2 separate regions of the Homo sapiens genome follow, and region 1 is linked to region 2. The links come from fine-mapping of genetic effects on gene expression. A gene starts in region 2. The other region holds a variant in brackets. All regions are shown on one strand. Distances are from middle to middle. Region 1 has its middle 34 kb from the start of MFSD1. Region 2 holds the start of LXN (latexin).

Region 1 (5,524 bases), 160 kb before region 2:
GCTTGCAATTATTTCTCTGATCCATATAAGGCTAAATTGCTCTGCAGTTTTTTGACCTACTTAACAGCAAAGTATAAACATCCATTTTTAACTTATTTCTGGACAGTTAGGATCAAAAAAGTTTAACTGAGTTGACATCATATCCTGGGTTTTCAGGGACAATTATCTCAAGAGACTAGGATCAAACTAGGCTATTCCCTTCAGGAAAAGGACCCCATTGTAAGTAGAACTAGGAATCCACTGTGGAACCTGAGGCAAGACGATATTCATCACTTCCTTTGTGATTAGAGAAAACTCACCTATAAAAGGGGATAAGAAAACCAGGGGAAAAAAATGTCCTTCCTGAATTTACCCATTCAATGCCCTCCACCCTGGGGAAAGTTGGGATCCTCAAATCCGTTATCCCCCTGGGGCCCTCAGAATCTTCCCTAATCTTCCTGATTGTTTGGACAGGTTAAAACAGAACCGAAGGTCAGCAAATACTATGATGTTCAAAATACAGTCACTGGAGCTAGTATTTTCATATTGGATGAAAATATGATGGCTATAGCAAGCTACAAAAGTGTCAAACACAATCCCAACCCTTAAGGAAGTTATAGACTGTTGGAGAAGCAAAATATAAAAACATACAAACAACAATATGGGTACTAACAGCTTAAGCAGCTACAGAAGAAATTATGTCAGTTGTTGATTATCAAAATGAATAATACAGGCAGTAAGCGTTAGAGGAGTTTCAAAGGGGACTGAGAGCACTCAGGCTGAGAGAGCCATGAAGAGCCTATGAGTACACTGAAGGCTGGGAGAAATTTCAACCAGGAGAATGTCCCAAGCAGTGGAGAAAATGGAAAGAGAGATCACTGTGAGCAAATTTAATTTGTGTGAAAGTCATTGGTTGGTTCCTGAAGGTGAGGAGTTGGAGACAATGCTGGAAGGGCAGGCTGACATGTGATGATGAAGCCCCCCTAATGCCAGTGAAAGAACCACTTCTCATGCCAGGAGGAATCACCAACGGCATTTCAGCAGAAGTGCAGTATGATCAAAGTCATGATTTAGAAACTTAATCTGGCAGCTCCCCCATGTTTTGAATGAATTAAAGAAAATGTCACAGCTTAGACTCCTTCAAAGTCTCCATATTGACCTCCCTTCCCTTCACAGCATCTCCAGATTTTCTTTAGAACAGTATTTTCCATACATCCCATCCTCCCCAATTGTCCACTCTCCCCTGTATCTTCACTTCCACAGAATAAAGCCCAGCTCCCTCACGCTGACATGCTAGCCATGTCACAGTCTAGTCCCAGCTGAACTCTTCAACTCATGGCTCTCTCACCACACCCTGTGGCTTCCCACCTCTCTCACATTTGCCACGGGCCTGTCATCTACCTCTTTATAATCCCTGACAAAGCCTTCTCCAAATGCCTACGTTCCCACCTTCCACAGGCCATGGGCTTGGCATCCTCCAATTGCCTCAGACCTCTGCACTGCTGACTCTCCCATGGGGCTTATTGCCTTGAAGTTGACATGGGCTCCTTTATCATTTCAGGTCTGTTTTATCTCCCTCACAACTCCATTTTTCAACCCATAGAACATGGTATCCCAGCAACATTGCAAGTGTGGTAGACAGTGGGCACAGGTGATGTCAATCATGAAAAGAAAGATGATCAATATTTAGAAGACCACTGCAGGGATCCAAGAATGCATTTAACAGGCAGGCTAAGGTGGCATAAGGAGAACTAAAATTTTTAAACGTATTGGAAAAAACAGAAATAAAAGGATTAAACACGGCTGGTAGGGAGACATAACAAAAACTACTCTGAGACTCTGAGCCACGGGAATCAGAAGAATGATCAACTAGCACCTAGCACTCAGTGGGTGGGCAAGGGAGGAAGGGAGGGAGGGGACTGTGTGCTGTTAGGGAGAGCTCAGATTTAGACAAGCTACTGTTAGCTGCTAGTGAGACCTCAAGTTGGAAATGCAGGGTGGAGGTTGAGAGAGAACCGAATCTCAAGCTCTGGGTTTGGGGCCAACTGGGTGGGCAAATATACAGAGCTGAATCAGAAAATGGTATCTCTGAGAGAGAAGTGAAGAAAAAGAACAGAGGACCTAGGATACACAGGAATCATAGAAAGCATGACAGAGTGGAGGACAGGAGTTGCTCTCGGATAACAGAGCATCAGAAAATCAAGTAAGTAAACAGGGTCAAGACACAGAGAAGTCAAGGGTGTTAACATGAAACAAACTAGTCAAAGAGAATGAACAGTTGTAACAGTTGTCTGTCTCTCAGCAAACAGCTCAAATGCCACCTCTTCCGAGAAGCCTCCCTGGATCACTCATCAGAAGGCCCTCTCTTCTCTGAACATCCTCCACACCTCTCTTAGCACATCTCCCCTTCTGCAAAGTATGAGGGGCATTATTTAAATCCTTTTATCTCCCTCACCCCGAGATCTAGCAGAGGCTTGAGCATATGGGTGCTCACTAAAACACTGAGGAATAAATGAATACATAACAAATGCTTCTCCTGTGTGTGCTTTTCTGGAATTACTGAAAAATCCAATTTATGAATGTGTGCCTATAAAACTAAATCACAAGTTCTTTGGGATTTATTTGTTCTAACACCCACCGACTTCAATTCAAAGCAGTCCCAGGATACACAACCTGCAAGCATTCTCACTTTTTCCTTTTATCCCATATTTCAAAGGCAATAAAAAGGGGAAAGTTTTTAATTGCTTGCAATTAAGCATAACCTGAGCTTATAAAGTTACATAGTCTCATTATCTTTTACTTTCCTATAAACAAGCTAAATCTCTTTAGTATTTGTACTTCCCAACTTTTTGTTTTGTTGAGGATTTTTTTTGTTAACGTATCAAACAACTTCAAAGGTAATGGCCTCAAAAAGAATTCCATGATAAGAAGCCAAACTTATGTTCTTGCAGCAAGCTGTAGCTGGGCATTTTTATAGTGGTTAAATCATGAACAAAAAGCAAAGAGTGCCACTTCAGGAAAATTAAAGAATCGCAGAGTCTGAGAATGTTCTACTCTGCAAGTAGAAAAACACATTAATAAAGAGGACTTTATAAAGCATTAACCCGACAGTCAAAGCAGCAGCCTCTGAAGACCTTCTTACACTCTCTTCTTTTATAGCCTAGTTTCTTGCAAGGGCAGGCTACAATTTTTACTGTAATTTCTACCTTGAATTCATACTCCAAATCATTATACCCTGGCTGCTGCCTACCCCGCCACCTCAGTCCACTGAAATTCCTCTCAAAAAAAACTAATGACTTCCCAGTTACAAGTTAAACAGACACTGTCAGCCCCTATCCTCTCTACCTTTCTTGGCATTTGACACTGTCACTCACTCCGTTT[GT/T]TTGTTTGTTTGTTTGTTTGTTTTTGAGACGGAGTTTCACTCTTGTCACCCAGGCTGCAGTGCAATGGCACAATCTTGGCTCACTGCAACCTCCACCTCCCGGGTTCAAGCAATTCTCCTGCCTCAGCCTCCCGAGTAGCTGGGATGACAGGCGCTCGCTACCACGCCCAGCTAATTTTTGTATTTTTAGTAGAGATGGGGTTTCACCATATTGGCCAGGCTGGTCTCAAACTCCTGACCTCAGGTGATCCACCCGCCTCGGCCTCCCAAAGTGCTGGGTTTACAGGCATGAGCCACCACGCCCGGCCCACTCACTCCCTCTTAAAACCTCTTTAGCTTCCATAGACTGCATCTCTCCCTGCTCACACCGGGTGAGTGGATGTGACCCAGGACTCTGTCCTTGGCCCTCTTATCTTATCCCACATTCTTTCTGAGCAATCTCACTGACTCCCCGATGGCTCCCAAATCACACCCCAGAGCAATCCTCTCTCACATTTTGAACCCATGTTCCTGTTCATACAAATCTCGGGCACCGCAAGCTCCGCAATGCCAAAACTAAACTCATTTTCCTCCCAACCCTGCACCTTCTCACCTGCGGTCTTGATGGCTGAATGGCACCAATGTCCACCCTAGGCAGGAGTCTGGGAGTCGTCCTTAACTCTGGCCTCTCCCCGACCTCACATCCAGCAAATGACCACCTGTCAGTTCAACCTCCCAAGCACCATAAGCACCTGTCCCTCCTTTCCATCTTCACTACCACTGCCTTAATTCAAGGCCCATCATGTCTCCAGCTTCAATGCTCCAACCTATTAACCATTCTCCTGCCTCCAAATTTGTTCCCCTCAACCCCCAATCCATTCCATTCCTACTGCTTAAAGGGTCACCTTTCTAAAATTCAAATCCTACCTTGAGAATCACCAGCATTAATATCTTCCAGAAGCTCAAAAGATTATGATCACAATCCTGAACATCGAAGAAACAGACTTCAGTGATCTGCCTTGCACAACTAAATTCCCCACATGTCACTTTCATTTCATTTCCATTCACCAGCAGCCTCTCTCAGGATTAGCTCTGGGACGTCTTCTCCTCCTCCCTCCCATCCTGCACCTTCTCAGCTTTAGATGAGCTATCCTACTCACCCTTTACAATGCAGCTCAAAGATCACCTCCTCTTCAAATCATGCAGGTGTCCTAGGTTCTCTGAACCTTATTAAGTCTTGTCATTGCTCTGACAGCCCTCATCACGCTGTATCAGAGTCACTGAATCACTGATCCTCTGTCTATTTCCCCACTCATTCATGAGACCCTTGAGCAAGGTGGTCCACGCTTTCCACATCTCTGAGTTGCCAGGTCTAGCAAAGAGCCTCGGAGTCAATGATGCCAGACACGAAGACCCAGAAGCCCATGAACATCTTACTCAGGAAGCAACATGACATTGCCACAAGCATCATGCTTGGTTTTCCCCACTACTGTACTTCTTTGAATCATGAAATGCGAACAAAGATAAGACACATCCCAATTTCAGAAATGTTAAAAGGTGAAAAATTGTCTACGAAACATACTAAGTAGCATGATCATAAAACCTTACGTACTTAGTCATTAGACTCAAAAAGCATTTTAAAAATCTAAGTGCTGACAAATAAACTAGAACTTTCTAAGATAATTCAAATATTTCCACATGAAAAGAATACATACATTATCTTAAAAGGCAATTATAATATTTTTCCTTTGAAACATTAAGGAACTATTTGTTCTGCATCCTAATTGTGGTGTCATAGCACAAATCTCTATTAAAATTCACAGAATTCTAAAAAAAAAATAGAAGTCATGGAAAACATTTTTTTTTTTTTTTTTTTTTTTTTTTTGAGACGGAGTCTCGCTCTGTCGCCCAGGCTGGAGTGCAGTGGCGGGATCTCGGCTCACTGCAAGCTCCACCTCCCGGGTTCACGCCATTCTCCTGCCTCAGCCTCCCAAGTAGCTGGGACTACAGGCGCCCGCCACTACGCCCGGCTAATTTTTTGTATTTTTAGTAGAGACGGGGTTTCACCGTTTTAGCCGGGATGGTCTCGATCTCCTGACCTTGTGATCCGCCCGCCTCAGCCTCCCAAAGTGCTGGGATTACAGGCGTGAGCCACCGCGCCCGGCCGGAAAACATTTTAAGAGA
Region 2 (5,000 bases):
GTGCAGTGGCATGATCTCCACTCACTGCAACCTCCGCCTCCTGGGTTCAAGCAGTTCCCTGCCTCAGCCTCCCGAGTAGCTGGGATTACAGGCGCCCGCCGCCACGCCCGGCTAATTTTTGTATTTTAAGTAGAGACGGGGTTTCACCATATTGGCCAGGCTGGTCTTGAACTCTTGACCTCGTGACCCACCTGCGTTGGCCTCCCAAAGTGCTGGGATTACAGGCGTGAGCCACTGCTCCCGGCCGTAAACTTGCTCCTTATAAACATAATAATAAAGGCTATTTAAGTTCATTTGACCACATTAATTTTTACACATTTTTTAAAGCACAATGATTTTTTTCTTAGACATTTTTGGCTGTTTATTTGGACTAGATATTCCTGGACTGCACATATAATGACAGAATGACTTAGTCTCATGAATCATCTTTCAAATTTTTAATGAAAGAAAATGAGAAACAGGAAAAGGTGAGCTACAGCCAGTTTTAGACAAATATGAAATTATCACTGTAAAACGCTAATTATCTTTTCTTTTCAAGGAGAGAGGAAAAAGCTTAAATATAAGCCATGTTATTAATAAAAAACCTTGAAGTATGGAAATAAAATATGGGCAGTCTTCTACTTAAAATGCTCTTAGACAAATAAGACAAATACTGTTCTCCGAAAGTCTTATTTTTTTATTTCTGGTGTTCTTCTAAAGTGTCTCTCAAATGAACAGTCTTCTTCATGTCAAAGTTCCCCAAATTTCACCAATTCTTTGGTAAATTTATCCCAGGAGACAGTGTAAGTTCGTATCTGACAACCCCATCGAAAATTGGCTGATATTCTGTATTTGCAAAAATATTGCCATGGGTGGGTCAGGGTTTAACAAATGCTGAACTAAGAAACGTGGAGAGGCCAGGCACGGTGGCTCATGCCTGTAATCCTAACACTTTGGGAGGCAGAGGAGGGAGGATTGCCTGAACTCAACATGGTGAAACCCCATCTCTACTAAAATACAAAAAAATTAGCCAGGTGTGGTGAAGTGCACCTGTAGTCCCAGATACTAGGGAGGCTGAGGCAGGAGAAATGCTTGAACCTGGGAGGTGGAGGTTGCAGTGAGCCGAGATCACGCCACTGCACTGCAGCCTAGGCAACAGAGCGAAACTCTGTCTCCAAAAAAAAAAAAAAAAAGGTCATGTGTGAAAGACAGTGTCTCGCAAAGCAAATTTCTCATACACGGACAAGACTGAGAAAAGTTTCATTGACATTTGATACAAGATGATGGGCAAGCAGACAGATGGTATTTAAAGGCAAAGTCAATCAGAACCCCCAAATCCCAGGAGACAATAATAAGCATGAAACTGAGGCCAAAGTCCAGAATCCAGATTTACTGCAGAATCTACATAATCAGAAAGAGATACACCTCAAGAGTCTTGGGTGTGTGCATTACTACCAAGTTAAAGGTCCTGGCCAGGCATGGTGGCTTATGCCTGTAATCCCAGCACTTTGGGAGGCTAAGGTGGGTGGATCACCTGAGGTCAGGAGTTTGAGACCAGCCTAGCCTAAACCCGTCTCTACTAAAAATACAAAAAACTAGCCGGGCATTGTGGTGGGCACCTGTAATCCCAGCTACTCTGGAGGCTGAGGCAGGAGAACTGCTTGAACCCAGGAGGCGGACGTTGCAGTGAGCCGAGATAGCACCATTGCACTCCAGCCTAGGCAACAAGAGTGAAATTCCATCTCAAAAAAAAAAAAAAAAAAAAGAAAAGAAAAGAAAAAAAGGTCTCAATCCAGGCAGCGAAGACCTTGGCCAAACTTTGGTAGAATCTCCAAGTTATCCTAGCCCAATTAACCTAAGACCACCAAGGATAAACCTGTACTTCTACAAAGTCAGGTTTATAGGCCCATTGCAATGAGGTAGACCACATACCAGAGAGAGTGCTTTGTATAAGTTCAGTTTTTAAGTTTATTTTAATCCTTGAAGTAAAATATTCAAAATGACTCAAGTTGGAAGCATGGCGTTACATCAAAACTTATCATTTTAAGATTAGTAAAGGAGAGGGGTACAGGTGCATTTTTTTATTTCTCCTGATCCAAATTACATAATCTCCCAATTTAATACTATAGTTTGCAGATTCTCATACTTTGATTTGGGCAGAACTGGTCCAAACCCACAAAAAGCTGAGGATGAGCAAGCCTCTTCCTGGACTCTCATAAGGGGAAGGGAAATGAAGGAATCGAATCACTACCTGGAGTACTGTGTACCTTGCCCTGCCAGGGACGCTGCATGCGGTGTATAAGGAAGTTGTGCTCCAGTATGCAAGCGAAGCAACCAGACTTTTTTCCCATGGACAGGAAACTAGAGTCTTCAGAGATGTCCTATATCAGCGAAAGCCCCACCCTGCACTTCTATAAAGGTTAATGAAACGAAAGATGCAATCCCAGCGAACCTAGCCCACTGACTCCCTCCCCACACCTCCACCTGCTGGTGCCTGACAAGCATGCTGGCCTCTCCTCCAGTAGGAACCAGCAGGCGGAGTAAGGAAGCCCGCTGCAGGCAGTAGTGGGGCGGGGCCTCAGAAGCAGTCAGCCCAGGGCTCTCGGATGCAGGGAGCCTGGGCCCAAACAGCAGCTTCCGGAGTCGGAAGGAGCTGAGGAAGAAGACTGACTGAAGGAGCTTGCGACTTTTCCGCCTCGGCAACCGGACCCAGCAGCAAGCAGGACGGGCGGCGCTCTGCTACTGGTCCCGTTAAGCCAGAGTAGCCCAAGCCCTGAAGTCACTGCTCATCCGGAATGGAAATCCCGCCGACCAACTACCCAGCCTCCAGGGCGGCCTTGGTGGCACAGAACTACATCAACTACCAGCAGGGGACCCCGCACAGGGTGTTTGAGGTGCAGAAGGTCAAACAAGCCAGCATGGAGGTGAGTTTAGCAGGGGGTGGTGGACAGCAGAGGCTTCAGGATTGCGCTCCCTCCACTCACCCGCGGTCTCAGCCTTTGGGTGCAGACACTCCGTGCCACCCCCTACCCACCTTCTGTTTTAGGACACACTGCTGGTATCTGGTCTTGAGATATTAAGGTTTCTGGGGGAATGTCTATACTCCAGTCTCTGGAGACAGCCCGGGACTGTTTTCACCTTAAGGCAGAGACAAAGTTTTTACGCACACAGTTACAAGAAAACGGGAACACGCTCTAGGTAAGGGGCAGCACTTTCCTTAAGTGTAAACTGTAGAAACCATTCAAAAGACTACTAAGGCTGCCACGTTTCTCATCTGCTACTCTGATCTGGACCAACAAAAGCTCCCATCTTCCAAGACTCTATTGCCTACATTTTAAGACAAATCCTTATCAGACCCTTTGACCAAAATGAAGGGGGAAACAAACAGCAAGAGAAACTGACAATCAAAGTCAAAGAATAAAAGCACTGTGGGCTGACGCTGGCCTTTAGCCACCCAAACACCGCTACCACATGACTGCCTTAAATGATGTGCACCCTCTGCTAAAGGCTTGAATTAAATGTTTAAGGCCTCAGCAATCACTAACGAGGTTTGTTTTCATTTTACGAAAATCTACTGGATTTGAGATTATCCCTTATTTATCTGACAGAATTTTAACTGCTAACAGTCTTTTAGAGGTGACACAGTAGATCTTATTTTGAAACTGTACCAGATAACAGAATTAGGTATAAATTTTCAATCTGTATCTTGATTTAAAAGTGAAATACCATTTCTTAGTCTTATATAATTTGTTAATCATTTTGCAGTTTCACTAATGTATAAGTAAAAACAATACTTAATTGTATTAAGTCTCCAATTGCTTTGCAGTAATCTGCCTCAAAATGAAATTCACATTCATTGAACATTATTTGGAGGGTACACTGAGCTTTATGAAAAAATCTTTTCAAAGGTGATATTGTCATCTTTAGAATTAAACGCTGTTTCAAACTTTCTTATGTAGAGACTTTAAGATCACAGATCCAGGGGTTAAATAAAGTCTTTTGATGATTGAAAGTGAATTGTGCCCAATTTGTATGCTTTTATCCTACTCTTTTGTTTTCATCCAAAATAAACTTGATAGGGGACTTGCTAAATTAGATGTTACATTCATGGTGACATGCCTTTTTCAAGACCTAAGGCTTTCACCATTCCCCTTCAGCCAGCCCCTCCAACCAAATGAGATGCATACTTCTAACAATGCAAGTATAATGTTGTTATAATATTTTCTTGTCTCCACTACATTTTCTTAATTTTAGGATATTCCAGGAAGAGGACATAAGTATCACCTTAAATTTGCTGTTGAAGAAATTATACAAAAAGTAAGTTAAATTTCTTTTTTCTTTGAGACAGGGTCTCACTCTATCACCCAGGCTGAAGTGCAGTGGCAGAACATGGCTCACTGCAGCCTCAACTTCCCGGGCTCAGGCCATCTTCCCACCTCAGCCTCCCCAAATAGCTGGGACCACAGGTGCATGCCACTACACCTGGCTAATTTTTGTGATCCTCCTGCCTCTGCCTCCCAAAGTGCTAGGATTACAAGCATGAGCTACCAAGCCCAGCCAAAATGTTCTTATTAAACAAATTTAATTCTAAATATTCCAGATCATCTTTGCTGATCAAATCTGTAAGATTGATTAGTTTTACCTCTTTTTAAAAAGTTGTTGTGAAATACCTGCCTCTGAAAAACACTGACCATATGGGCAAAGTTTACAAGGATCAGTTCTTTACTATCTTTGGGTATTCCTAGGTATATGAATTATTTCTACCAAACTACACAAAAAAAGACTATACACTTCAGTTCAAATGAATTTCTTAAGAAGTTACATACTCTTAGGGCAGTCTGAACTTATGCCTAATATAAATGAGTGAAGTAATTTATTCCCCAATCAATCATCTTCTTAACGTCTGCTTTTCTCATTCTATTTTTCACTGGGTTTTTAGAGAAAGAACGTGCTCTTAGATATTCAGAAGCAATAGAATGCCAGCTGATACCACCATTCAGATGAAGATCTTTCAGTAATGG

Evidence for each region. PIP is the estimated chance that this variant, and not a neighbour inherited with it, causes the effect.
Region 1: its variant is the best candidate, but not a certain one, in a credible set for the expression of LXN in whole blood (INTERVAL, PIP 0.52).

The regions. Positions count from the first base shown.
Region 1 is chr3:158,833,294-158,838,817 of GRCh38, reverse strand. No RefSeq gene overlaps it. Among named protein-coding and RNA genes, the nearest start is that of MFSD1, 34 kb to the right of the region's middle. The variant GT/T (reference allele first, on the strand shown) is at 3,361.
Region 2 is chr3:158,670,253-158,675,252 of GRCh38, reverse strand. LXN (latexin) reads left to right here and starts at 2,605. Exons shown (of 6, transcript NM_020169.4): 1 at 2,605-2,903; 2 at 4,234-4,296. The coding sequence starts at 2,775. All of the region lies in intron 13 of GFM1 (G elongation factor mitochondrial 1), which reads right to left. RefSeq lists enhancers at 2,232-2,421, 2,732-2,781, 2,203-2,795, 3,222-3,281, 2,796-3,388.